Linked DNA regions of Homo sapiens: regions 2 and 3 are each linked to region 1. Evidence: fine-mapped expression QTL. A gene starts in region 1. Each other region holds a variant in brackets. All regions are shown on one strand. Distances are from middle to middle. Region 1 holds the start of DICER1 (dicer 1, ribonuclease III). Region 2 has its middle 39 kb from the start of C14orf132. Region 3 overlaps CLMN (calmin).

The links. PIP is the estimated chance that this variant, and not a neighbour inherited with it, causes the effect.
Region 2: its variant is fine-mapped to the expression of DICER1 in sun-exposed skin (GTEx, PIP 0.96).
Region 3: its variant is fine-mapped to the expression of DICER1 in whole blood (TOPMed, PIP above 0.99).

Annotation. Positions count from the first base shown.
Region 1 is chr14:95,151,043-95,161,690 of GRCh38, reverse strand. It overlaps DICER1 (dicer 1, ribonuclease III), which reads left to right and starts at 4,162. Exons shown (of 27, transcript NM_177438.3): 1 at 4,162-4,461. It overlaps DICER1-AS1 (DICER1 antisense RNA 1), which reads right to left and starts at 4,003. Exons shown (of 4, transcript NR_015415.1): 1 at 3,833-4,003; 2 at 3,457-3,498; 3 at 2,656-2,815. RefSeq lists enhancers at 3,692-3,761, 3,802-3,901 and silencers at 3,992-4,451, 4,512-4,871.
Region 2 is chr14:95,995,346-96,005,993 of GRCh38, reverse strand. No RefSeq gene overlaps it. Among named protein-coding and RNA genes, the nearest start is that of C14orf132, 39 kb to the left of the region's middle. RefSeq lists an enhancer at 3,937-4,438. The variant G/A (reference allele first, on the strand shown) is at 6,141.
Region 3 is chr14:95,182,508-95,190,507 of GRCh38, reverse strand. It overlaps CLMN (calmin), which reads left to right. Exons shown (of 13, transcript NM_024734.4): 13 at 1-8,000. Among named protein-coding and RNA genes, the nearest start is that of DICER1-AS1, 29 kb to the right of the region's middle. The variant A/G (reference allele first, on the strand shown) is at 4,720.

The sequences.
Region 1 (10,648 bases):
AACAATACAGATGAAAAGATAAATAGGATGAGGTGTGGGAGAAGGGGCTCAGACCTTTCATGCCTTCCCTGGGTGCACCACCCTCCCAGGAACCTCCTGGTGTTCAGCTATCTAGAAGCTCTCCAACCCTGTCCTCATGGGTTTTTATGCAGGCTTCATTACATAAGGGATGACTGATTAAACTATTGGCCACTGGTGATAACCTGACCTTCAACCCTTCTCTTCTCCAAGAAGTTGGTGATAGGCTGAAGGTCCAACCCTCTGATCCTGCCTTGGTCTTTCTGATGACCAACCCCATCCTAAAGCTACCTAGGGGCTCCCAGCCACGAGCCAACTCATTAGCATACAAAAGACATCACTTCGGTGTTTGTAAGAAATTTAGGAGTTGTACACCAGAAAATGAGGTCAAAGACCAAATATATATTTCAGAATCTCACAAAATATATAGATACACACTTTTACATTTATATTTATTTTTATATCTACATGTATTAAGAACCATGACTTTACATGAATATCTCCAATTCCAATCCAATCACACAAACTTCTTGCTTTTCTTATTTCTGTACTTGTAACTCCCTTCTCCAACAGGGAAAAATCTGGCTCCCATTAGCCTCAATATAGTTTTTCTTTGTGTAGTTCTCCTGTATGTAATCAGCTGTCTGGCCTTGCAGGGCTGCTGCCCCACCTTCCTTCTTTGGGCTCAGACTCCTCACTGAACTGACAGCCCAGTCCAATATGGGAGTGACTATATTCTCCCATGTAGATGGAAAAGCAGAGAGAACAAGTTAGCAGAGATACATAGAAAACAATCACAAGGGGCACAGAGAGTACCTTTTGGGTTCCTGGAAGCTTTTCAATGACTGGTTCTAGTTTTTGCTAAGATGTGGCTGTATTCCTGTTCTGGGCTTTTGTGAGAAGCACCTATATCATTATGGTAAATTCTCCCTTTTTGGTTGCGCTAGTTCAGCTTGGTTTCTGTTACTTGCAAACAGAGAGTCTTAAAGGTATATTTAAATCCTGGCTTGTTCTACAAAAAATAAACCAAATTGTGGAAATAATAGGGGCTAAGGGAAAATAAAAATTAGCCCATAGAAAATGCATGCCACATGGTACTATACCGTTGCTTAACACGGGCTGAAATATAGGCTTTAAGATTTCTAGTGATCCAAACAAAGTGTGAAACAATATCCCTTACAAGATTTTATGTCTCTGGATTTAAAACAAACCAGCAAGTGGAGCATGAATAGATAGACCATTAGAACGGATACAGAGTCCAGAAGTGAACTGCTCAATAAATGACTGTGTAGCCACCTGGACAAAAAAATTAATTTGGATCTATACCTCACCCTATATATTAAATCGATTCCAAATGGATCAACTTTTAATTCCAAAAGACTTAAAGTCTAAATGTCCATCAATAGAGAATTGGTAAATTATGGTATGGATATACCTGCAATAATATGTTAAGGGGGTTGAAAAAACAGCAAGGAGCTCTCTATGTGTTACTATAAACATGCCCCCCGGATACATTAAGTAAAAAACACAAGGTGGAGTAAATATGTATGGCATGCCGGCATTTTTCTAAACAAGGAACACAAAGGGCATATCTTGGCTCATATATACATAAACATTTTGAAGAATGAGCAGGAAACAGTGGTCACCTATTTGTGACACTAGGACAGGTGTGAGGGACATCTTTTTCCACTGTGTATCTTTTATAGGCTTTCTGATAAATGAATAATATGGATATACTATTTATTTTAAAAATAAAAACTGAAATTGATAAAAATCAGACAAACCGGCCAGGCGCAGTGGCTCATGCCTGTAATCCCACCACTTTGGGAAGCCGAGGCAGGTCAGGAGTTCGAGACCAGCCTGGCCAACATGGTGAAACCCCGTCTCTACTGAAAATACAAAAATTAGCCGGGCGTGGTGGCACATGCCTGTAACCCAGCTACTTGGGAGGCTGAGGCAGAAGAATCGCTTGAACCTAGGAGGCAGAGGTTGCAGTGAGACGAGATTGCGCCATTGCACTCCAGCCTGGGCGACAAGAGTGAAACTCTGCCTCAAAAAAGAAAAAAACAAATACATAAAATTAAAAAAATAAAAAAATCAGGTATACCTGCTGATGGAACAAGCAGCCTGGCTAGTCTTGACAGATTGCAAGAGGGCAACCAGAGGGGCTGAAGTTGTACCAGCCCACAAATTTCCACTGCCAATAGAGTCCAGTGCCTACCCCCATACTGAGATGCTGTCCTTCTCATAAAGGCTTATCAGGGAGTCCACCGAAGAGATATCTACATTTGGGGATAAGTTAAGACGATGTTCTTTAAGCCAGACACTTATTTAACGCCCACCGATATTTTAATTCCTAGCTACAAAGAAAACCTTATATGTATGACTGGGGTCTTAAAGGTATGACATGCTCACCGTGCTTGACATATAAGAAACTACTTTTTTAAATACATGGGTCTGCCAGGAGCATCCTACTTCCTAATTTTGCCCATAAATATGCTACTTTCAAGTGAAACCTTAAGCCAATTCATAGTAAATATATTATCAAAATTTTAGCACAGTAATGACTGAGCACACCAGCCTCAAAGCCAGACTACGTGGGTTCAAATCTCAGTTGTTCACTTACTGGCTACTTACTTGTTGGAAGTTATTCCATTTCTTCGTCTGTTAAAACAGGAAGCAGGCTGGGTACGGTGGCTCACGCCCGTAATCCCAGCACTTTGGGAGGCCAAGGCGGACGGATGACAAGGTCAGAAATCGAGACCATCATGGCCAACATGGTGAAACCCCGTCTCTTCTAAAAATACAAAAATTAGCTGGGTGTGGTGGCGTGCCCCTGTAATCCCAGCTACTCGGGAGGCTGAGGCAGGAGAATCACTTGAACCTGGGAGGCGGAGATTGCAGTAAGCCCAGGTCGCACCACTGCACTCCAGCCTGGAGACAGAGTGAGACTCCGTCTCAAAAGAAAAAAAAAAAAAAAACAGGAAGCAGTTTCAGCACCTACCTCACAATGTGCACACAGTTAAAGCACCTACCTCACAGGGTGCACACAGTTAAAGCACCTACCTCACAGGGTGCACCTAAGGATCACAGGCATGCAAGCCCTAGATCAGCCTGCCCAATGGCAATATAATGCAGGCCACAGGTGACATTTAAAATTCTGTAGAACCCACACTAAAAAATAAACAAATAAAACTTTTATCCCAATATATGGAAAAAGTTTATCACTTCAACATGTAACAATTTTTTGAACATTATTTGGTAAAGAATGCATATATCTCGATTCCGACTAGCCATACTTTAAGTGCTCAGGAGCCATGTGGGGCTGGTGGCCCCAAACTGAACAGCACAGCCCAGGCAGCAGGGGCGCATAGTAGGTTCTGCTCACGCCCATGGTCTGAAAGAAACACGGTTGCAGTTGCTGTGAGCACACCTCACCTGGAGCAAACCGGCCTATCAGGGGGTCCACTGAAGAGATGTCTACATTTGGGGATAAATTAAGAAGATGTTCTTTAAGCCAGCCACTTATTTAATTCCCACCGATATTTTAATTCCTAGCTTCAAGCTGTGGTGCGCGGTTCCGACCTATGCAAATGAACAGCTTACAAACAGAGGGCCACCATCTATTTCTCATTATCTGGGGATCCCGGTTGGGGTGGGGGGCGGAAGTGGGTGTTTGTTATTTCCCCAAATGCGGAGGCCCCTGCACCACTAACGCGAGGAAACGCAGGCGAGTGGGAAGGTACTTTAAAAAGGGGAGGGAGGTGCTCAGAGGGAAGCTAAGCTCTCCGGGAAACAATTACGGCCACGTTACGGTCTGTGGGTGCCAGAAGGAGCAACAATGGAGGCAGTCGAATTCCGAGAGCTCAGAGAGTCTGCCAAACTTAGCCGGCCTCGGCGCGCGGGTTCCCGGGGGCCCCAAAAACTCCGGGCAACTGCGGCCCAACGCCAAGGTCCAGTCCAGGCGCTGGGCCGCAAACGCCTCTCCGGCCTCCGCGCGCGCGCCCGCTGTCTCCCTGCTCCTGAGTGGCTGGGGGGCCGGGATTAACCTTTCACCGCCAGGCCCTGTCCAATCACAGGCTCGCTCTCATGCCGCCACGGGGCGAGCGGAGCGTGGGGGCGCGGAGGGGCGGTGCGGGAGCCAGTGGGATTCTCCAAGCGGCTGTGCGCCGTTGCCGCGGGCCGTGCGCTGGCTGCCGGCCAGCCGGGCGCTGCGCAGTCTCCGCAGGCGCCGGCGGGAGGGGTCGAGGCGGAGGCGCGGCGCAGGCTGCTGCAGGCCCAGGTGAATGGAGTAACCTGACAGCGGGGACGAGGCGACGGCGAGCGCGAGGAAATGGCGGCGGGGGCGGCGGCGCCGGGCGGCTCCGGGAGGCCTGGGCTGTGACGCGCGCGCCGGAGCGGGGTCCGATGGTTCTCGAAGGCCCGCGGCGCCCCGTGCTGCAGGTGAGGCGGGCTCCCGCGGAGCAGCTTTGTGTCCGGGGCGGGGAGCGGGTCGCCTGGCCGCGCTCCCGCCTCCGCGCGGAGGCCCGCGTGCCGGCCATGGCCCCGAGCCGCGCGTCCGGGCCTGGCGGGCGCTGACGAAGGGCGCGGCCTCGCCTGCCTCGTCGTCCCGCACAGCGCGGCCTGTGGACCCGGCGTCTGCCCGCCTCGGCTCTGCTCCTGGGCCCGGACCCCGGCGCCTCCCCGCGAGGCAGCCCTGGGAGACTTTCCGGGCCGCCGTGGCGTGGTGGGGGATGCCGGCGCCTGTCCACTCCCCGGCCTGGCGAGGCCTGGGGCTCTTGACAGGTCCCGTCACGCGCGCTAAGGTGGCGCGGGAGCAGCGGAGGTGGAGACGCGCGCCTGACCTGCCGGAGCACCCTGGGGCCCTCCTCTGATGGGGCCGCTGTGCCGCGCCCGGAGGGGACGAAGCTGGGCTCTCGGTCCCTCCCGGGAGGGTCCTGTGTGATTACTGTCAGGGGACCAGATTGGGGCCCTGGGGGGCGGGCAGGGGCCGAGGCCATTCTTTTGCCTCTCCCCTCAGATGTTTTTGTGCCAAAATGCCTAGACCCTGCGGAGGACCCTTTCTTCAGGGTTTTTGATTTTGGGGAAATCAGTGTATGTTTTAAGTTAGCACATCAGATTTCTGTAGATTGTCCAGAAAAGCTGAGTTGCCCTGATGGCTCTGCCTGGAGGTCAGAGCCAGCAAACCACTGAGTGTGTCCTTAGGAACCTGAAGATCCGCGGAAACGTGGAGATGAGTTGGAGGGTCCTATTTGTGTAGTGTTAACTCCGTGCTTTTGTGGAGAGAGTTGTGGTTAAAGGGACACGTTACTGGTCTACACGATAAGTAAGTGTTCTTAGGACTTTCAGGTTTTAAAAACATTCATCTGATGAAAGAGGATCACTTGGACGCCTATGCTTCTGTCTTCGAATATTCTGAATCTTTACAATCCTGATTGTCAGGTGTCTTCGTGGTGCTTGTTTTCAAACAGTGGAAAAGGACTCAGGTTAGGATTTAAGCAACTCGGAAAATATTGTTAAAAATGTGCTGTTAAAACAGGTTAGCTATATTGAATATGTATTGGTGTAAACGTTAAGTTTTCTAAATAAAAATATACATCCTCACCAAAAAACTCAGTTTATTAAAAGATGGGTTCGGGATAAGCCAGGTCCTAGAGAATAGTAATTTTCAATATTATTGATATCTTTGGAAATTAGGTTCTGGAATAGCCAGTTTATTTTGCAAAGTCTACTTTAAAGCTACCTGTGGCACGTGTGTATTATATGTAATATGTGCTGTGTACATGCACATACATACACAATTATTTCAAAACTTCATTTTAGGGCATATTCCATAAAACTCAATAGATAAAAAAACAAAAAACTAAAGATTGCTTTTAACATGGTCACTATAAACATTGATCATGGTAACATAGGTTTATAGATTTACTCACGGCACCAAAATGCTGTTTTAAGAAGAGAACAGTTAGTCCATTTTAATTTGGGGAGAAAAGACATTTTCCTACAATCCTTTTTAGTAAGGGCCTGCTTTACTTTTTATGCTTCCATCTCATGTTTGAAGGGTAAGCCCTGACTGCTCTGCTGTATTTTGCCCGTGGCTCAATGTGTGAGTTGGGTAGCTAGGTTGTTTTGCTATTATTGAGCTTTATTGTCTTGGTTTTAGAAGACATTGTCTTTTGATGTGGCTCATGATTCTTATTTGACAGTGATTTTGTCATATAGTGGGTTGTACAGTACTTGTAGTGCTATCTTCTAGAGAGGGTGACTTTTATGGCGTTGGGATGTTTTATTCTCTACCACTATCTGACATGTGAGGTGCTTGTTTCATTTGAGAAAGTAGATATTTCGTAGACAGTCTCTCACTTGCGACCCTACCATGTCATGGTCACGTTTCCACTTGCTCATGGCAAAGGAGATAAGGGAAACGTGTTATTGAGTGCCTCCTTGTTATGCGCCAAGATGTTTCAGGTTCTACGTACATTCTCTTCTAATCCTCACTGTGACCCTGCGATCAACTCGATATTGTCCTTGTTTTATAGGCAAGGAAACTAAGAGTCAGTGATTATTACCCCAAGTTAGGAATCTCGAAGTGGCAGAGCCGAGATCGAATTGTGGTTTGGTTTCAGAATCTTTGGAGGCATGCTTTTTGTATTGCATTACTGTTCCAAATGGATTTCAGGGCTGCATCACGTGTAGTGACTCCTCAGTTAAGACTTGTGGAATGAATGAAGCTGTGTCTAACCTTAAATGTTCAGGTGAATGAATGGTTATTTGAATATTTCAGATAGTTGTTTTTTTTTTTTTTTGGCATGGTAAAATATACATAACACAACGTTGAACCATTTTAAGTGTACAACTAGCTGGCATACAGTACATTTACATTGTTTTTAGTCATTACCAGCATCCATCTCCATACTTTTTCATCTTTCCCAACTCAAACTGTCCTCATTAACACTAACTCCTGATTCCATCCTACCTTCAATGCCAGAGAACCACCATTCTACTTCCTGTCACTGACTACTGGAGAAACCTCAAAATAAGTAGAGTCATACAGTATTTGTTCTTTTGTGTCTGGCTTATTTTACCCAGCATAGTGTCTCCACGGCTCATCTGTGATGATTTAGATGTCAGAATTCCCTTCCTTGGAAAAGCTGAATGGTATTTCATTGTATGAATATACTGCATTTTGTTTATCCATTCATCTGTCCATGGCCACTTGGGTAGCTTCTATCTTTTGGCTACTGTGAATAATGGTGCTGTGAACGTAGGTATACAAATAATTCATTGGAGTCCATGCTTTCCCTTCTTTTAGACATATACCTCAAAGTGGTCACATTGTTTCTTGATCTTCAAAACACTAGACTAGACTCAGAATTTATTGCAGTATGAGTTTTCTCAGGGTTCCTCCAAGCAGTGATAATTTCCTACAAACAACTCCTCTGTCAGTAAAATCTGTAATCTCTCTGAAGCCCAGGGTCGACTCCTTTTTACGATCTTGGTTCCAATCATAGTGTCTGGCAGGTATTCAAAAAACTGATCAAACATGGAGTGATGTGCTTTATTGAATGCCAGAGGAAGATATTGGTGAGGTCTTTAATTTGTATAAAGAGAAAGTTGGAGCCAAGTGACTTATTTTGTTTACCTTTTGCTGTGCTTTTTGGACATTCAAGAGCTTAGTTCATCCTGAAAGCCCAGTGTATGTATTATACTCGCTCTTATTCACAGGTTTCTTTGCAATTTACGACTTGCCAAATGACTAGTCTTCTGAGGCAGCATTATTTTCTTGGTATTCCACCTCCTTAGCCTGTGGGGCTTGGACCTTTTGATTTTTTGATGGCTAGTTTTCACTTCTTCCAAATTTCTGCTAAGACTCTAGTATTAGTACATTTATTTAATAGTTTATGATGTCTATTTTGAGAAAGGATTTGAAATGGTCTTATAATAGGAAAGTATTAGAGTACTATGAAAATGGTAAAGGTTGGTAGTATAGAATGTGGAGGCAGAGAATTAGATGAATGATTGGGGCAAGGAAAGGTGAGTGCTGCATGTAACTCACGTTGATTAATGAAAGGAAGCATACCAATTTGAAGCAGATTTTTCTCTTGTATGAAGAATAATCAATCTTTTGGATTATTACATTAAATAACATTAGCAATATATGGAGAAAATGTTTTACATTTTACAAACGATAGAGAAACATTTTTTCACATGCCATTTTAGAGAAACTGGATAAAAGCCTCAGGCATAATAGAAAAGCTTTAGTAATACAGGTGTTCACTGTTCCAGTGGTTTGATTCATTAATTTCTTTTGGGTGGTGTCCCTCGAATATCAGTTGTCTCATTCAGGCTGTTGACAGATGCTAAATAACAATCCATTCAGGAATAAGCTCTGTGGACAACATGGGCAGTGAGGATTTTCCAAATAGGAATTCTCACCCAGTCTTTTTTTTTTTTTTGAGACGGAGTCTCACTACGTTGCCCAGGCTGGAGTGCAGTGGTGCGATCTCAGCTCACGGCAAGCTCCGCCTCCTGGGCTCATGCCATTCTCCTGCCTCAGCCTCCCGAGTAGCTGGGACTACAGGTGCCCGCCACCACACCCTGCTAATTTTTTGTATTTTTAGTAGAGATGAGGTTTCACCGTGTTTAGCCAGGATGGTCTTGATCTCCTGACCTCGTGATCCTCCCGTCTCGGCCTCCCAAAGTGCTGGGATTACAGGTGTGAGCCACCGTGCCCAGCCCTCTCACCCAGTCTTTAGGAACGTGTGTTGGTCTAAAAAGTAAGACTGGTTGTATCGTGGTGTATACTTGATGAATTAATACAGAAAGAAAAAGATTATTTTTGAGATGTAGCTGGTGAAATTGACATTTTCAGTTATGTAATAAAGCCTTTGTTAAAATAATTCTGAGTGCAAAATGGCTTCCTCATCTAAAATTGTCAATGAATTGTTGGTACTCCTTTAACATGCAGTTACCTCAATATGCATTTTAAATAAGTGACTAAGAAGATGCTACAAAACATTCTCTGAGGATGTCAGTAAGACTGTTACTAGAAGTAAGACATGACAGGCTTAAGTTTGGCCTTAGAGTTTTTTCTTTTTGTTTTTTAGGCTTATAACAGCATTACATGTTCTTGGTTGTGTTAAGGTTTATGGAATAGTAAGGATTAGATTCTTCATGCATGTTCATTACCAGACATGGTGCTTGACATATAGGAGACACTCCGATTTGTTGAGTGAGTAAGTTAATTTATAATACTTTTTGAAGTATTTAGAAGCTAACACAGTTTTGTGGGGAAGAATATTGCTTGCATATTAAGGCTTTTAAAAAGATTATTACTATTCTGCTTTTGGACAAATCATGCTACTTGGTCCTTTTTGCTTTGTGAGGTACGTATGATTATGTGCACAGAAACATTGCAGACTGAGGGAAGTGTTAAGAATCGTGGGAGAAAATCGCCGTCAAAATTGGAGTTTAACTGTATTGCAGACTTTCTCCTTGTTGGCACAGACTAACTCTGTTGTGCTTGTTCGTTCTTTGACAGCTCAATGTATGCCATAAAGCAGGGGTTTTAACAACACATTTGAACAATTCTTGAGGATTAGAAAATGAGGTCTGTTAACCAGTTCAGAATTTTAAGAAAACAAACCGGTTGTACTTAGAGAACTTGAATAATGAGAGAAGACTCTTAGTTTAAAAACTGATCTTTGACATGATGTAGGAAGGTTCTTTGATTAAGAAGTTAAATGACCCTGTTTGAAGGGAAAAAGAAAGGTAGTAGTCGTATTTAGTCGTATTTAGTCCTCTGAGATGTTTCGAGATTGCAGGATTTCTGTCTTTCCTCTTTTGGTAACATCCTGGGAGGTGAGATTAACATGATGAACTCACAGCCTGTCCGCCTCTTATGCATCCTGCTGCCCAGCCATCACTGTCAGTTGCTCTGATTCATGGTATTTTAAGTTCTTTCCACTTTGCAGAGTTAAATATTAATGTTTTATCATAGCTTTGTAGGGATGCTTAAGAGCAAGTGTTTGGCGTCAGAGAGACCAGGGTTCAAATCCTGATTCTTCGACTTTATAGCCGATGAGCACTGGGCATATGGCAACGTCTCTTGAGTCTCAGCTTCCTTGTCTATAAACTGTCGTAGTGGTGTTTGCCTCTTGAGGTTTTGAGAAAAAAAAGGAGTTTCTTAAACTCTCATGGTACATAACTAGCATTTGATAAAATTAATGTAATATTTTTCTTTTAAATACGTGTATTAGAGAAAATTTTAACATGCAATAGTCTTAATGTGATTAGATTATATTGTGAGCCCCCAAATTATCAATATTGAAATGTATGGTCTAGTAATATAATGGAGGATGAAGGAAAAGAGGGCTTGAGAACAATATTTTACAGACAAGTTTTCGAGGAGGATTATCTATACTGGTTCAGCTATCTTAGTTGGTCTCTGTAGTAGTGATACCAAATGTAACAGTGCCTTAAACGTCTCTTAACTTTCCCTAAATAACACATTCTTCATCTGCTATGCATGAATTAACACATCATCCTTGAAATCATACTTCAATTCAGTGTATAAAGCCAAGTGTTTTGTAAAATAAACCTCAAGTTAGGTTTTATGTTTCCTTATGAT
Region 2 (10,648 bases), 840 kb before region 1:
TCATTTGGTATGATATTGGTTGTGGTTTTGTCATAAGTGGCTCTTATTATTTTGAAATATGATCCATCAATGCCTAGTTTATTGAGAGTTTTTAACATAAAGGGATGTTGAATTTCATCGAAGATCTTTTCTGCATCTATTGAGATGATCATGTGATTTTTGTCATTAGTTCTGTTTATGCGATGAATTACATTTATTGATTTGTGTATGTTGAATGAGGCTTGCATCCCAGGGATGAAGCTGACTTGATTGTGGTGAATAAGCTTTTTGATGTGCTGCTGGACTCAGTTTGCCAGTGTTTTATTGAGGATTTTTGCATCAATGTTTATCAGGGATATTGACCTGAAGTTTTCTTCTTTTGCTGTGTCTCTGCCAGGTTTGGGGATCAGGATGACGCTGGCCTTATAAAATGAATTAGGGAGAAGTCCCTCCTTTTCAATTGCTTAGAATAGTTTCAAAAGGAATGGTACCAGCTCTTCTTTGTACCTCTGGTAGAATTCAGCTGTGAATCCATCTGGTCCCGGGCTTTTTTTAGTTGGTAGGCTATTTATTACTGCCTCAACTTGAGGACTGGTTATTGGTCTATTCAAGGATTCAACTTATTTCTGATTTAGTCTTGGGAAGGTGTATGCATCCAGGAATTTATCCATTTCTTCTAGATTTTCTAGTTTATTTGGGTAGAGGTGTTTATAGTATTCTTGGATGGTAGTTTGTATTTCTGCAGGGTCAATGGTGATATCCCCTTTATCATTTTTTATTGTGTCTATTTGATTCTTCTCTCTTTTCTTCTTTATTAGTCTAGCTAGCCATCTATTTTATTATTTTTTTCAAAAAACAAGCTCCTGGATTCATTGAGTTTTTGAATGATTTTTCCTGTCTCTATCTCCTTCAGTTCTGCTCTGATCTTAGTTATTTCTTGTCTCCTGCTAGCTTTGGGATTTGTTTGCTCTTGCTTCTCTAGTTGTTTTAGTTGTGATGTTAGGGTGTCGATCTGAGATCTTTCTAGCTTTCTGATGTGGGCATTTAGTGCTATAAATTTCCCTCTTAACACTGGTTTAGCTGCTTCCCAGATACTCTGGTACATTTTCTCTTTGTTCTCATTGGTTTCAAAGAACTTCTTGAAGTCTGCTTTAATCTCATTATTTACCCAGGAGTCATTCAGGAGCAGGTTGTTCAATTTCCATGTAGTTGTGTGGTTTTGAGTGGGTTTCATAATCTTGAGTTCTAATTTGATTGCACTGTGTTCTGTGATACTGTTTATTATGATTTTTGTTCTTTTGCATTTGCTGAGGAGTGTTTTACTTTGAATTATGTGATCGATTTTACAGTAAGTGCCATGTAGCAGTGAGAAGAATGTATATTCTGTTGTTTTGGGGTGGAGAGTTCTGTAGATATCTATCAGGTTCACTTATCCAAAGCTGAGTTCAAGTCATGAATATCCTTAATTTTCTCTCTCAATGATCTGTCTAATATATCGACAGTGAGGTGTTAAAGTCTCCCACTATTATTGTGTGGGAGTTTAAGTCTCTTTGTAGGTCTCTAAGAACTTGTTTTATCAATCTGGATACTCCTGTATTAGGTTCATATATATTTAGGATAGTTGGTTCTTCATGTTGAATTGATCTCTTTTCCATTATGTAATGCCCTTTTTGTCTTTTTTGATCCTTGTTTGTTTAAAGTCTGTTTTGTCAGAAACTAGGATTGCAACCTCTGCTTTTTTCTGCTTTCCATTTACTTGGTAAATTTTCCTCCATCCCTTTATTTTGAGCCTATGAGTGTCTTTGCACATGAGATGGGTCTCTTGAATACAGCACACCAATTGGTCTTGACTCTTTATCCAATTTGCCAATCTGTGTCTTTCAGTTGGGGCATTTAGCCCATTTACATTTAAGGTTAATATTGTTATGTGTGAATTTGATCCTGTCATCATGATGCTAGCTGGTTATTTTGCACACTAGTGGATGCAGTTTCTTCATAGTGTCATTGGTCTTAGTATTTCAGTGTGTTTTTGCAGTGGCTGGTACCAGTTCTTCCTTTCCATATTTATTGCTTCCTTCAGGAGCTCTTGCAAGACAGGCCTTATGGTGACAAGTTCCCTCAGCATTTGCTTGTCTGAAAAGTATTTTATTTCTCCTTTGCTTATGAAGCTTAGTTTGGCTGGATATGAAATTCTGGGTTGAAAATTATTTTCTTTAAGAATTTTGAATATTGACCCCACTCTTTTCTGGTTTGTAGGGTTTCTGCTGAGAGGTCCACCGCTTCCTTTTGTAGGTGATCCAGCCTTTCTCTCTGGCTGCCCTTAACATTTTTTTCCTGCATTTCAACCTTGGAGAATCTGATAATTTTGTGTCTTGGAGTTAATCTTCTCATGGAGTATCTTACTGGGGTTCTCTATATTTCCTGAATTTGAATATTGGCCTGTCTTGCTAGGTTGGGGAAGTTCTCCTGGATGATATCCTGAAGTGTGTTTCCAACTTGGTTGCATTATCCCCATCTCTTTCAGGTACTCCAATCAGTCGTAGGTTTAGTCTTTTTACATAGTCCCATTGTTTTGGGAAGTTTTGTTCATTTCTTTTCATTCTTTTTTCTCTAATTTTTCCTGCCTCCCTTAATTCAGCAGCATAGTCTTCAAGCTCTGATATTCTTTGTTTGACTTGATTGATTCAGCTACTGATACTTATATTTGGATCATAAATTTCTTGTGCTGTGTTTTTCAACTCCATCAGGTCATTTATGTTCCTCTCTAAGCTGGTTATTCTAGTTAACAGCTCCTGTAACCTCTTGTCATGGGTCTTAGCTTCTTTGCATTGGGTTAGAATATGCTCCTTTATCTCAGTGAATTTTGTTACTACCCACCTTCTGAAGGCTACTTCTGTCAATTTGTCCATCTCATTCCCCGTCCAGTTCTGTGCCCCTGCTGGAGAGCTGTTGCAATCATTTGGAGAAGAGGCACCCTGGCCTTTTGAGTTTTCAGCATTTTATTGTTGATTCTTCCTCATCTTCATGAGATTGTCTAGCTTCAATCTTTGAGGCTGCTGACCTTTGGACGAGTTTTCTGTGGGGACTTTTTTGTTGAAGCTCTTGTTGTTGTTTTCTGCTTGCTTGTTTTTATTTCAACAGTCAGATCCCTCTTCTGTAGGGCTGCTGCAGTTTGCTGAGGCCTTATTCATCTGGGTCCTTCCCCCACCTGGAGATGTCACTGGAGGAAGCTGGAGAACAGCAAAGATGGGTGCCTGCTCCTTCTACTGGGATCTCTGACTTCAAGGGGCACTGACCTGATGGCAGTAGGAGTGCTCCTGTATAGGGTGTCTGGCGACCCCTGTTGGGAGCTCTCACCCAACTGGGGGGCATGGGAATCAGGACCCATTTAATGAAGCACTTTGGCTGTCTCTTGGTGGAGGGGGTGTGCTGCACTAAGGGGAAACCCACTAATCTGGGCTGCCCAGATTCCTCAGAGCTAGCAAGCAGAGAGACTAAGTCTGCGGGTCAACAGAGACCATGGCCACCCCTCCCCATAGGGGCTCAGGTCCAGGGAGATCAGAGTTTTGCCCCTAAGCCCCTGGCTGGAGTTACTGGAGTTCCTACAGGGAGGCCCCACCCAGTGAGGTGGGATGAGTCAGGGTCCAGCCTAAAGAGGCAGTCTGGCCATAGTCTGTCATAGCTGGTGTGCTATGCTGTGGGGAATACCTCTCGGGACCAAGCCATGCAGTCTCCCTGGCTCTAGCAGGGGAGAAATGCAGCCTGGAGCTATAGTGATGGCTGCTGCCGTCCCCCCTCCCCAGGAGTTCAGTGTCTTAGGCAGCTAGCAGCCGGAGTGATGTCTGCCGTCTCTTCCCTGGGGAGCTCAACTTTCTTAGCCAGCTGGCAGCCACAGTGATGATGGCTGCCCCTTTCTCAGGAATCTCAGTTGTCTTAGGCAGCTGGCAGCTGGTAACCACAGTGATGGTTGCTGCCCCTCCCCTAGGGAGCTCAGATGACTTAGACAACAGGCAGGCACAGTGATGATGGCTGCCCCTCCTGCTGGGAACTCTGTAGTCTTAAGCAGATTTCAGCTGAGAGGCTGTTGAGAATCTGTGTGGCTCTGTGGTTGGGACCCAAGGCCCTGGTGGCGTAGGCTCATGAGTGGAAACTTCTGATCTGTGGGTTGCACAGATCTGTGGAAAAAGCACAATTTCTCAGGCTGGGTAGCACACTCACTCACCGCCTCCTTTGGCTGGGCATGGGGGTGCTCCCCTTGTCCCGTGTGGCTCTCAGGTAGGCTGATGCACCATCCTGCTTCTCTTTGCTCTCCGTGGGTCATGCCAACCACCTAGTTAGTCCTGATGATAGAACCTGAATATCTTGGTTGCAGGTGTAGGATTTGCATGCTGTTTTGTTTCTTCTCGGTGGGAGCCTCCGACCATTGCTGCTTCTAGTCAGCCATCTTGACCCCACCCCCTGATTGATTTTTAAATGTTGACCTTTAATCCTATGACCTTGTGAAAATTAGTAGTTCTGGTAGCTTTTTGGGTAGATTCTTTGGGATTTTCTACATAGAAACTCACATTGTCTGCAAGTAGAGACATTTATTTATTACATTATTAAACTAGCTAGGAACTCCAGTATGATGTTAAATAAGCATGGTGAGGAGGGGCATCCCAGCCTTGTTGTTGATCTTTGGGGAAAATATTTAGCCTTCTATTTTAAGTATGATATTAACTGTGGCTTTTTTTTTTTTTTGGTACGTATCCTTTCTTGAGTTAAGAAAGTTTCTTTCTATTCAATATTTTTTAAGACTTGTTGAATTGTATTAAATTATTTTTTTCTGCATCTATAGAGAGGGTTACATGGTTTTTCATTTTTAGTCTGTTGATGTGATTAATTACATTGATTGATTTTTGGATGTTGAAATGGCCTGAACTTCCTGCAAAAGATCCCACTTAGTAATAATGTATTACCATATACGTACATATATATGGCACAATTTGCTAATATTTTTGCTGAAGAATTTTTTGTATCTGTATCCGTGAGTGATATTCTTCTCTAGGTGTGTGTGTGTGTGTGTGTGTGTGTGTGTGTGTGTGTGTGTGTGTGTTGAATTTCTTTGGATGGTTTTGGTACCTGTGTAATGCTGGCCTCAGAAAATGAGCTGGGAAGTCTTTCCTCCTCTTCTACATTCTGGAAGAGTTTGTGTGTAATTCATATTTCTTCCTTGAATGTTTGGTAGAATTCACCAATGAAGTCATATCTAGCATATGGGCTGCTCTTAAAGAGTGGTTTTTTTAGTCAATATCTGCTTCACCCTTGACTTTAAGTTTTCCTTTGTGCCATGCCTGGAGAGACAGAGAGAGAAAGAGAGAAAGAGTCTCTCTTCATGCTCTTGTCTCTTTCCCAGCTGGAAACTGCTGTTATTTGTTACTTGACGCTGTTGTAGCCTGTTGACAGGATGTGCTACAGAGTTTGCAGGTGAAAAATAAAAATGAAGGGCTCCTTGCTCAGAAAGTATTAAAACTGTCAGGATGGCAATAGTAGAGTATTAAACCAAATGCAGGACCCTTCTAAGCATGGGCTGTGTGATCACACAAGTCATTGGCCATGAAGTCATTTCTGCCTCTAAAGAGAGGCAGAGCTGGGGCATCCTCTCCTGTTCTGGCTAAGCCTCAGTTTTAGAGGCAAGAACTGTGTCCCTGGGTCTTGGAGATGGGGCCTTCTCAGCAGTATCGCACACTTCCAACTGTGGGTCTGGTCAGGGGACAGTGATCTTGCACCTTCTGCAAAGGTAGAATGTATTTTTATGTTCCTTCTCCCAGCTAGAATGGGTTTCCATCAATGTGCTAAGTGTGACAGAGTGTGTATTGTCTTTCCCCAGGGGTATAAGCCATTTGTTCTGTAGGAGACATAGAAAAAAGGATCCAGGTAGGGTTTAATGTTTTTCTCACAGTGACTACTGTGCCTTTCTCCTGGGTCAGCACCATCAGTGATGCCTCTCAGCACTCATGCTCTGACCCCATCTTTCTTGTAATCATCTAGCTTGGAGAACAGCTAGCTAGCAGCTACATATTCCCCTTGTGCTTGTGATTCCCAGTAGTTCTATATCCTCTCACCTGTCTGTATTTGTCCTTTAGCAATTTGTTAGCATTTTTAGCTGATTTTTCTTACCA[G/A]TGTCTGGTGAGATTTACCACAGGTAAGCAAGGGCTCACCTCCCCTTTCTTCTTGGGGGATCCTGTATTTCCTTAGATTTCACATTAGTTGGTTGCCCTGTGACCTCAGTTCTTTAACAGGTGCAAGATTTACAGGTTGTCCAGCATATTTGTTGTTGTAAAGATGGAAGCGATTTTTTTTTCCATTTGCCTATCTCCTAAGTGGAGAATGGAAGTCTATGAGTATTTTTTAAAACTGTATTATGGCAGATTGCAGTATAATGAACCCCATCACCCAGCTACAACAATAATCAATCAAAGACCTCATTAGTTTCATCCACTCTAATGGATTATTTTGCAAAAACAAATTCTGCTCATCATGAAATTTTAAACATAGTATGTAATTATAAGATATATTTTAAGACAATAAGTATATCACAACAGTGAAATAATGATTCTATGTGAACTCATTTTTGTTTAAATAAATATCTACATGTTTGCAAGTGCATGGACAAACATCTGGAAAGAGATACACCAAACTGAGAGAAACATTTGTATATGTGGGCATGTGGTGGGATTAGGTGAGGGTCAGGGTGACATGTGTTTATCTGCAATGTCTTTATTAATGATGAGAATGTATTTTTGTATTATTGGTGTGATTTTAAAAGTGTGAAAAAGAAAAAGTAAAAAAAGTAAAAGAAATGAAAGAAATGCAGTTAGACTTTGGAATCTGACATGAATTTGAACGCCAGCTCCACTTTGGGCCACATGTGTGACAATGGACAAGTCACATCACGGTGGGGGAGGAAAGGAAGTGGAGAGAATTTGGAAAGGAGATGGGGAGGACAGATAAGAATCCCTTACAGGATTACTTGTGCTAAAGGATTAACCAACTCTCTCCATGTAAACTTTCTGGCATACAGTAGGCACTCAATAAATGTGAGGATCCTCATTTCTTTTGGCATCTCCACTCAATGTAGAATTATGAGCAGGCACGCACTCATGGAGGAATATTAAATCCTAATGATAATGAGCTTCTTCTGCCCCTGTGTGGTGTGTTCAAGTTATTGCTAGGATTTCTCTCACTCATAGAAAAACCAAAATGAATATTATTTATTTTCCCCTTAAGTTGGAATTCACCTTTTTTACCTCTTGACCCCCAAATCTGATTCTGCAGTATCTTGTCTAGGTTTCTATTACTGTCCAGTGCTTACAATATCTCTGTCTCCCTCATCAGCTTGTAAACCTTTTGAGGGCAGGGACCTGTTTTACTCTCTGTCTCCTTTCTCTCTCTCTCTGTCTCTTTCTCTCTCATAACAATTTCAAGCCTTCAGGGCTGGTGTGAGGATTAAATTGCGTCAAGTCTGCGAAAACATTTTGTAAACTACAAAATGCTTTCCAGATCTACTCATTTGTTTATTCACAAACTTTTGTTACAATGCCTATTGGCTGCACATTGCACAATGTGAAGGGCTCACCTCACTCTCTTGTGGCCACATAGGACGTTGGAGAGAGCAATTGTCAAAATCTACAGAAAGACTATGGTTGGCACTGGACAAAGTGCTGTAGGAGCCTAGAGAAGGAAGGGTTAGCTTTTGCTAGGGACAGGGGCAAGCAAACAGTTGACATGGAAAGAAGATTTGAGCTACAGGTTGGGATCTCAGTAGCAGCTCCTGATGTGGAGAAGGGGGATGCTAGAAGGACTCTCATCAACAAGGCGGCATGTGAGAGGCAGACAACACATTCTGGGACCACCCCAGGGTCCTGTGTGGCTGCACTTTAAGCATCATTGTAGATGTGACTGGAGGAAAGTATCGAACCTTAGGTTGAACAAGAACACAAAGGACTTTGAATGCTCTACTGAAGAAGCTACACATAAATCACTCAAGCTTAGCCCAGTGCCTTCCAGAGGGCAGACATTCAACAATTACCTGGGACATTGAGTTAAATGGATGCAATAGATAGAATCTTTATTGCTTCTATTTTGAATTGTCTATTTTCTTTTACTTAAAGGGAGGTGATTTCAAAGTCTCAGCCTCACCAAGTCTATTTTAACAACAGCATTTCTCCAAACACTTTCACTATGCCAACATGTGACATTTATATTCATTATGAAGAAAAGTCTCCTATCTTGACAACTAATGATTTTTCTTGGAAGGTGATCCTTAAAAATATATGGCATTTTCTCAGGATGTAAAAATCAATGTTCTAAAATCACTAGCATTCCTATACACCAACAACAGTCAAACTTAGAGCCAAATCAGGAAAAAACTCTCATTCAAAATTGCCACACAAAAATAAAATACCTAGGAATACAGCTAACCAGAGTGGTGAAAGATATCTACAAGGAGACCTATAAAACACTGCTCAAAGAAATCAGAGATGACACTAACAAATGGAAAAAATATTCCATGCTCATGGATAGAAAGAATCAATATCGTTAAAATGGCCATACCGCCCAGAGAAATTTATAGATTCAATGCTATTCCTATTAAACTACCATTGACATTCGTCACAGAACTAGAAAAAAAAACTGTTTTAAAATTCATATAGAACTAAAAAGGAGCCCAAAAAGTCAAGGCAATCCTAAGCAGAAAGAACAAAGCTGGAGGCATCATAGTACCCAACTTCAAATTATATTACAGGGTTACAGTAATTAAAACAGCATAGTACTGGTACAAAAACAGATGCATAGACCAGTGGAACAGAATAGAGATCCAGAAATAAGACCACACACTCACAACTATCTGATCTTCAACAAACCTGACAAAAACAAGCAATGGGGAAAGGATTCCCTATTCAATAAATGGTGCTGGGAGAACTGGCTAGCCATATGCAGAAGATTGAAACTAAACACCTTCCTTACACCATATACAAAAATCAACTCGAGATGGATTAAAGACTTAAATGTAAAACCCAAAACCATAAAAACTCTGGAAGACAACCTAGGCAATACCATTCTGGACATAGGAGCAGGCAAAGAGTTCATGACAAAGACCCAGAAGCAATTGCAACAGAAGCAAAAATTGACACATGGGATGTAATTAAACTGAAGAGCTTCTCCACAGAAAAGGAAACTATCAACAGAGTAAAAAGACAGTCTACAGAATGGGAGAAAAATTTTGCAAACTATGCATCTGACAAAGGTCTAATATCTAGCATCTATAAGGAACTTAAACAAATTTACAAGAAAAAAAAAACCCCATTAAAAAGTGGGCCAAGGACATGAACAGAACAGACCCTTTTCAAAAGAAGACATACATGTGGCCAACAGTCATATGGAAAAAAATCAATATTACTGTTCATTAGAGAAATGCAAATCAACACCACAATGAGATACCATCTCACACCAGCCAGAATGGCTACTATTAAAAAATTAAAAAATAGCAGATGCTGGTGAGTTTGCAGAGAAAAAGGAATACTTATACACTGTTGGTGGGAGTGTAAGTTAGTTCAACAATTGTGTAATACAGGCTATTCCTCAAAGACCTAGAAATAGAAATACCATTTGACTCAGCAATCCCATTACTGGGTATATACCCAAAGGAATATAAATCATTCTATTATAAAGATACATACACACATATGCTCATTGCAGCACCATGAAATCAACTCAAATGCCCATCAATGATACACTAGATAAAGAAAATGTGCTACATATACACCACGGAATACTATGCAGCCATAAAAAGGAATTAGATCATGTCCTTTACAGGGGCATGGATAGAGCTGGAAGCCATTATCTTCAGCAAACTAACACAGGAACAGAAAACCAAACAGTGCATGTTCTCACTTATAAGTGGGAGCTAAATGATGAGAACACATGAACGCATAGAGGGGAACAACACACACTTGGGACTATTGGAGGAAGGAGGTAGGAGGAGAGAGAGGATCAGGAGAAATAACTAATGGGTATTAGGCTTAATAGCTGGGTGATTAAATAATCTGTTAAAAAAAAAAACCATGGCAAAAGTTTACCTATGTAACAAACCTGCATGTGTAGCCCTGAACTTAAAATAAAAGTTAAATAAAGAATAATTTTAAAAGAGTATATGGCTTTTTTAGAGGCTTGCCCATGTACACGTTTGGGGATACAAAAGATTCAGTAACCATATCTAGATTTCAGAACATCTACAAGTGGAGCTAAATGATTTTTTGCTAGAAGATAAATTTTTCTTGAAAGAACTTGACTGTCATTTCAGCAGTTGACAGCTAGCATTCATTAAAGATGCTACCTTCAGGCTTTTAAGGAAAAGGAAGAAAATGAAATCTAACTGGTTGGAATGGAGGGTAAACATAAATTAGAGTATAAAGTTTTAAAGTTCTTAAGAATACACTTAGAGAAACTAAAATTAGTAGAAAAGGAAACAAGGAATTTGACTAGGCAAGCTACAAAATATGGGATAAAATCAGTAAATATATTAACAAAAAGGTACTTCAACAAATTAAGACTATATTATTTTATTTTTACCCTGGCAAGTATTTAAACATATCAATTGTAAGTGTTGCCAAGGGTAGGATAAAATGCG
Region 3 (8,000 bases), 30 kb before region 1:
CTGCCAAGACTCAGGTCCGTGGTGAGTCTCTGCATTGGTTCCTCCTCCCCTTGCTCTCCCCTTCAGAAAGCATGTACCAGGCAACCCTTATAAAATCACAAATGAGTCAGGAGGGGACTCAGTGAGCATCTTGTCTAGCTGGACCCAGAGAGACAGAGCAGCTTGACCAAGATCATATAGCCGACCAGGGGCAGACTTGCAGTGAGCACACAGGCACCTGATGCCCTGTCCAGAGCTGTCACCCCTTGTAGGAAACTTCCACTGGGCACACCAATGTCCTGAGAAAAAGATAAAATGACTAGATTAAAATGTCCACATTCAAGCAAAACCAAAAAGTTTAGACCAACTATCGACATTTGTTTTGTTCTTGTATTTTTCCCATGAGGAATTCTTACTCACCTTCAAGCTCATCCCCAATTCCTTCTGAAATACCCTTGACAGCTGCAACAGCTTGTCATTTGACATACCAGCGTCGCTCTTACTCCAGGAATCACGTTTCTTTCTTTGCTAGCCAAGGACTTGCTCATTTCAAGCAGTGGGTTTCAAGTTTACAGAATTCCAGCATGGCCAGAAGAATTTACATAGCACATCTGAGTCGATGACAGCCAAAATCTGGCCTCTAAACCAGTCTGATTATAGTCTGTCTCCCCTCCTGAAAGAATTTCAGCCTTCCAACCAGAAAGCTGCTGGGAGCTTGGAGTGATTCCATCTGGAAGGCCAAGAGCCCCATGGAAAATGAGCTAATTAATGAGCTCCCTGGCATCAATGAAAGCTCAAAGGTACAGATAATAAAGATTATGTGATAGTTTATAACTCTGGGCACCATGCAGTCCTTGCCTAAATTAGATGCTCGAAGAGCCTGGGAAGAGCCAACCCAAATGTGAATCATTTCATTTTATGGGTCTAGACCTTGTTCAGAAAAACCTCTGCAAGATACTTCTCTCACCTATTACAACTTGTAATATTGTTTAAAACATCTACTGGCAAGATGCCTGAAAGTCATTTGGTTCAGGTTGGCAGTCAACTGATATTTTGCAAAGGAAAAAAAAATCTCATTTGAGTATAGGCTTCTATGGAAGAAGCTGGATATAGAAAATGGATGTGGAAGTCTGCAGGACAAACCACCCCATTGCTTGTAAATTTTTTTTAAATTAAAAGAAATACAATAAGGCTTTTAACAAGAACTAGCAGTCCCCTAAGTCTCGCTGCTTAGAAGTAACCACTTTCAACTCTCTTATGTTTGCATTTCTACATAACGTGCTTACACTTTATTTTTTAATTTAGAAACATCTACTGGCTTGCTGTCACAGTAGAGGAGGATTTCACTCTTACCATACCGTGCTTTGGTTTTCCAGTATAGCTAGATCACATCATTTAGTACATTTCTATTAGGTGTTGACATTACCTGGAGCACTTAAGGATTGTTGACTCCCAAGCCCAGCAGTGTGTTATGGTTACATGTCCTTTCTCCTCCAAATGTCCCCATTAATTTGCTATTCTCTCTCTTTACTTTTTTTTTTTTTTTGGTGTGGCACATTCTTTAATAACTTCCTGAGGAAGAGAACATGGGAAGTAAATATGGTTGTAAATATTTTGAGATTTTTGCATGACTTAAGATGTCTGTATTCTGCCCTTAACAGAAATGTGGCTGAGCATAGAATGACAGGTGGAAAATAATACCCTCCCCTAGCCCCTCCCAAGCGTGCTGGTTGAGATTTCTGATGCCATTCTGATTCCCGTACCTTTATATGTGACTTAGGTTTTTTTATCCACCCTTCCTGGAAACATTTAAGATCTCTTTATTCTTGGTGTTCTGAACTGTCATGATGGTGTTGTATCCCGGGTGTTAAACCTTGTGCTGGGCCTTCATGGGAAATTTCTTAAATTTTCTTGTGATTATTTACATTCTTTCTTTCTGGACCACCTATTATTTCAATGTTGGACCCTCCCCTACACCCAGGCTGATGCTCTAATATTTTTTATCTTTTCTATTTTTCGTCTATGTTTCTGATCTGCTTTCAGGAAGAATTATTCATTTTTATCTTCCCAATCTGAATGTTTTATTGAATTTTTATTTTCCAAGTTAATAAAACCTTTGGTTATTATCCTGTCTTTGTTTTACAGTGTCCTGCTCTTGATGCGTGGATGCAGATTTTGTCTCTCTGTGGACGTTAATGATTGTGGTCTGAGGGGAAGTCTTTTCTGCTCCCTGTGTTGCCCTCATTTTCTCTGAGTTCTCTTTATTTTGGTGGTCTCAGTCTCTATCTTTCACGTTGTGAATTTTTCTCAAATATATGGTGATCCTATGGATCTGTTCATGTTTTAAGAGTGAGGCATCCAAAAGCTGATTGGAAGTTGTGTGTGCCAACTGGTGAGCTTTTCCACTAGGGTCACCAGGTGGGCACCTGGACTCATCATTGGAGAACACTGCCTGTCAGTATTTGCACGTGTTTTCTCTGGGGCTCATTCTGTTTCTTGAGAGATATTCCCACTACTCTCCTTCCTGGGAAACGGGCATACACAGGGCTTTTAGCCTATGCTGAGTACTCATGTGGTTTCAAAAATGGTGTCCCATCTGGGCAGAAGTCCCCATGAGCACTTGGCTTGACTGGCAAAGGACACCTTTTGCCCCTTCCTCCAGACATACCCAGCTCTGAGCTTGGACAATGCTCGAGGAACAATGAAAAGGCTAGATTTTAACTCCTAATTGCCCTCTTTAGCCAAGTGCCTCTGTGCAATGCACAACTGTAGGACCATATCCAGAGACCCTGGTCTATACTCAGTGTGCCCGAGTCCTGACCGCTGAGCAGGCAGCCTCATCACCCGTGAGTATTTAGACTTTCATTAAGTTGCTTCAACCTTTGCTGTGCCTGGTGTCCCTGAGTTGGAGCTGCTCTGATTTCTCCATGGAGTAGGAGCACAGTGGTCATCTGGCTGCATGGGAAGGACAGGGGACCTCAGAGCCAATAAATGCCCTGGTCTTCAGCCCCATGTCTCACCCCATCCCTCCTATTCCAATCCCCAAGCCTCTCCTGGAGGCCACAGGGCATCTCTGCTGACCACTCTGTGGCCTCCCCTCTGCAGGCATGTGGTTTTAGGATCCCCCTCCCTGCTCACTTTTCCATCAGTTCCATTCCTGCATAAATAGGTTGCTAGCTCTTGCTTACTGTTCTCTTCTGTATTCTGTGTTCATGGTTGTATTAATATAACTTTCATTCCTCTGCTCCTATTTTCATGGGGTTTCATGAGGGAAGAAACAGGCTCATGTGTTCAGTATACCATCTTGATCCATAAACCCCATTTGAGTTATCTCACAGGTTGCTTAGGGGGCTTGCTGCTCTGACTGGTTTGTGAACGTGCCCTGAGTCCAGCTGGGACTGCAGCAACATCCATCCTGTTGAGCTGTGGTCTGCTAAGTGATTTTGTGTAATGCTGTGCCAAGTGCAGGAGAGGGATACATAGCATGGCTAAGCTCTGCTTGAATGCCATGATTAGTTATTACCTTCCTTCCTTCCCCCTGGTTTTGCTGCCTATTGTCAGTAAATGATCTTAGATCTCCTGCCTCCCCAAAGATATAGTCTATGTGGTGGTCTGGGTTCTAGGTTTTCTTTACCACCCTTGCTTCACTTAAGAAACAGAAAACTGGCTAGGCACAGTAGTGGCTCACACCTATAATCCCAGCCCTTTGGGAGGCCAAGGCAGGAGGATCGCTTGAGGCCAGGAATTCAAGACCAGCCTGCACAACATAGCAAGACTCCATCTCTACAAAAAGTTAAATTTAAATTAGTGGTGGCATACACTTATAGTCCCAGCTACTCAGGAGGATGAGGCAGGAGAATTGTTTGAGCCCATGACTTTGAGGTTACTGTGAGCTATGATCCTGCTATTTTACTCCACCTGAGTGACAGAGCGAGACGCTGTCTCAAAAATAAAGAAACAAGTAGTCCACACAGGTGTTTGCCAGCAAACAAACAGCGCGGATTCTCTGTTGAACGTGGCCAACATTGCCTCGTCGAAGTTTGTATCTTGCCATAGTTGATGATCAGGTGGTCGGGGCTTCCTGGTCAGACCTGACCTTTGTGGGGAGATGTTCTCCCACCAAGGCTCAGAAGCAGGACACTCTTGCTGCCCCTCGGGCAGCCACCCAGAACATGGGCGTCTCCATTTCTGAGGTTCAGCATAGTTCCCCCCACCCTCTTCCCATGCAGTGCATGCCTGCTCTTTATCAGGATGGAACAGAGGGAAGGCAGAGGCACTGGGGGCAGCCTGTGTTGTTGATCTCTGTAAGTCACAGACTGTTCGAAAACCTCAGGAATTATGTAAGCGTTCAGTGCCTCATTTAAGAGATGAAAAACTGAAGATTAGAAAGAGGAAACGACTAGTCGCCCTGCTAGTTGATGACCTCCAGATAGCCATCTTCATTCCCAGTTAAGTTTACTACAAAACCACAGCCTCAGCTGCTGAAGCTAACCTCCCTACCCACCATCGCTAGGGACTCAGAACACCATGGAGCTCATCTCTCCAACAAAAGTCAGAATTAGCAAGTACAGATGTGTCTTACGAAAATGTCAGAATCCATCATGGCTGCTTTGGTGAGGAGCTGTTCTCCTTCCGTGGTCATGCCATTGGAAGGCAGTTGTATGACAAGAATGCTTTCACATGAGCTCCGATTTTCTTAACTCTCCAGAAGGACTTCAGAAGCCTCTGGAGTTTTGAGAC[A/G]CGGCCTCTCTCTCCCTTCTGCTTGGAGACACCTTCCTGGGGGTCTCCACTGCATTCCCCGCCGGTATTCCTCTGTGGAGCCTTGCGCCCTCAGGTCCCAGAAATGGGCTGTGTGGGAGCTTCCAGTCAGCCTGGTATCTCGGGACCTTCTCAGCCAGGAAATGAGACTGCACAAAGCCCTGTGAGGCCCAGCTGTGTTATTTCTCCTTCCCCGACATTGCATAATCACTGCTGACACAGCATTTGGGGAAGATTTAACGTCTTGGGCCAGCAGCTGCCATCTGGAACCATCACCACATAGCAGGTTGTTCTGTCCCATCCAACTGATGAGGGGGCTGCCCTAATGACAAGGTCCAGGACCTGGGTTGGGTGGTGGAAGGCTGGGAGCTGGAGTGGGCATTATTGTGCTTCTGTGCTGAAAATTGCTATGGCTCTTTTCCCCTAACAGCCAGCGTGGGAGAACCAAACATGAGACACAAGCATCCCCTTGAGCTCCACAGATCTTGCGCCTTGCTCTCATCAGGCATTTCCTTGGAAAACAGCAGTCAGCAGCTCATGGAAGTGAGCCCGGTGCACAGACTTTGCATGGACTTTGCACAGGTTCCATTTCCATCGTGTGCAGACACCTGTATCTTTGGGCTCCACGTGAGCACCTGCCCTCTTCACTCTGATTTTTTTTTTAAGAGACAGCATCTTACTCTGTCACCGAGGCTGGAGTACAGTGGTGTGATCACAGCTCACTGCAGCCTGAAACTCCTGGGCTCAGGCAATCCTCCTGCCTCAGCCTCCCAAGTAGCTGGTAGTACAGGTGCATGCCACCACGCCCACCTAATTTTTTTATCTTTTATAGATACAGGTCTCACTGTTGCTCAGGCTGGTCTCGAACTCCTGGCCTCAAGTGATCCTCCTGCCTTGGCCTACCAAAATGCTGGGATTATAGGCATGAACCACTGTGCCTGGCCTTCACTCTGATTTTTCTTAAGAGTCCTACAGGACCTTCAGGTCTTGTCACTTCTCTACCATTGTGTGTGAGACAGGGCATGGGGTGAGCTTGGTCAGGTGTGGGTCAAAAGCCTGGAGACTCAGAGCTGCTGGTTCCCCAAGAGCCCACAAAAGTTATCAGAGTTTCTGAGCTGAGTGTTCTGCAGTTGCCAGACCCCACAATGCTGGGAATACTGGCTTCTTTGTGTTTAGAACTTGTTCTGAGAACCTTGATGAGAACACATCAAGCAAGCAGTTCCTCCCAGCCAGGGCTGGAGCAACATGCCAAAAAACATTCTTGTCTATGGGAAAAAGACAACCAGTATTTTGTACTGTTTGACCAAGTTGTTTTTAAATATACACATGCCTCAACAATCCACGGCCTCAATCGCACTGCTAATTTGTTTAAATCCCTGACACTCAGATGTCAAGAATAGCTTCATCTAGCAGTGTTCTCTTTAAAGGAACCCTTTTTTTTGTTTTCATTTTAATCACTGCCTTCTTCTCTGGGAGGTATTGTGGGCTAGAGAAAGAAGTCAGGTTTGGGAGTCAGCCAGATTTAGATTGGAGTCCCAGCTCTGTCACCAGATCTCTGGGTGATCTTGGCAAACTAACTTCTGAGCTTCTGTGCATTATAGGCATTCAGCACATATTTGTTGGATGAAAAATACTTTTCTTGAAAGTTTATGAAGTTGTAGGATGCCCAGCAGCCCCCTTTTCTCTATTTCCTTCCTCTTGAAGCAAGCGTTGACTATACCTCTTTCCCTAACCCTTAGTGTACCATAGCTTCTTCCAACCTCTCTCCAATCCATTACTTTTTTCTGAGCTACCCTGTCTCAAATCTAACTCAGGCCTTTTTGCAAGAGGAAGTTTAAGCCATTGTTTACTCATTAACTCACTTGACCCTTAGAACAATCGTGGGAGGTGTTTATTTCGGAAAGGAAGCTAAAGCACAGGACAGAAAAATAAGGTCATAGCGTGAACTAGTAAGTAGCAGAACTGGGAACATAGGACTGTTATTTTCAAACACTCTAAACTTCACTGCAGTTGCAAATTTGCAACCAAAATGGCCGCCTTGAAAGGGTCTTTTGCAGTAAAATCTCAGTGTCCAACATCAAAGACAGTTCTTCAGGGCCTCCAATTAACTATACATCCTGCCCCCAGCTGCTCATCTCTGCACCTCTAACACGTACTTCACAGAGTAGGAAATTGGGCTTTCTCCTTCAAAAAGAAAAGTAGAGAAGGCCTGAGGGCAGTGTAATTAAAATGGAGAAGTAGAGACCACGAATTACTTGGATGAATTCATAACTGGTTGGTCTCTGAGGCAGGGATTATTATTTTTCCTGTATTTTAAGCTTAAAAGTAGTGATTTTTGCATTGTTACAAAAAACAAAATAGCAAAATATCATTTGATACTTGTATTCTGTTTGCAATAGCTACCACTTCCTTTAGCCCCAGCAAAAATCAATAGGTGTGTATTCTCTACAAGCCCATGCTGTGCCAGAATGCCAGTATTGCTAAATGTCATGCAAGGATTTAGACACTTTTTTAAAGGAAACTCTGGGAGTGCCTGTTGTCTGGAGAGTTGACATTGTCCAAAGCAGGCCAACACTGGTATGGGTATGGAGAACCCACGTCCTAGCTGTGGCTCACCTGCAGATGCCTTGAATTTACCTCTCTGGGTTGGAAGTGGGAAGACTTCTTTTAAAAGTCCTTTCTAAGTTTAAAAATCCAAAGGTTACGAAGGTAGTTTTTATTTATCTCAATAAGTGGCCTATTTGCTTAAAGCAAGTGTACCTCTGTATATCAGCCCAAAGCTTAGGGCAGTGCTTCTTGGCTTTAGTATCTGAGAAAGGTGCCTTTGGGAAGAGTTTGGTCAGACAGAAGGTAGTCTGAATCTTAAAGGTTTCAGATGAATGTTTGAAGTAGAACCTGGGAAATCTGCTTCCTAGGGCTGTTAGAAGGAAATTGGTCTCCTTAAATTACGTCAGCATCTGAGGCAGTTTCCTAAGGGAATTTCTTTTAAATTCAAAAGTTCAACTGCAGGAATAAATAGCTGTACAGGACTAGATCTTCCCATCCCTCATCTTTTCCCCTTCCCCGAGTAACGACTCAAAAAGGCTTCTGAAATTCTACTCAGAATCGGAGCCGTTTGCATTCCAACAAGGATCCCTTAAGCCAAATGCTGGTGTGTTTGTGTAGAATGTCCCTGGGGTAGGGGCGGTAGCTGTGGGGAGGGAATGTGGTGCAGGGGACACCTGCCCTCTGCCCTTGAAATTGCACCATAAGATGCTGCCTAT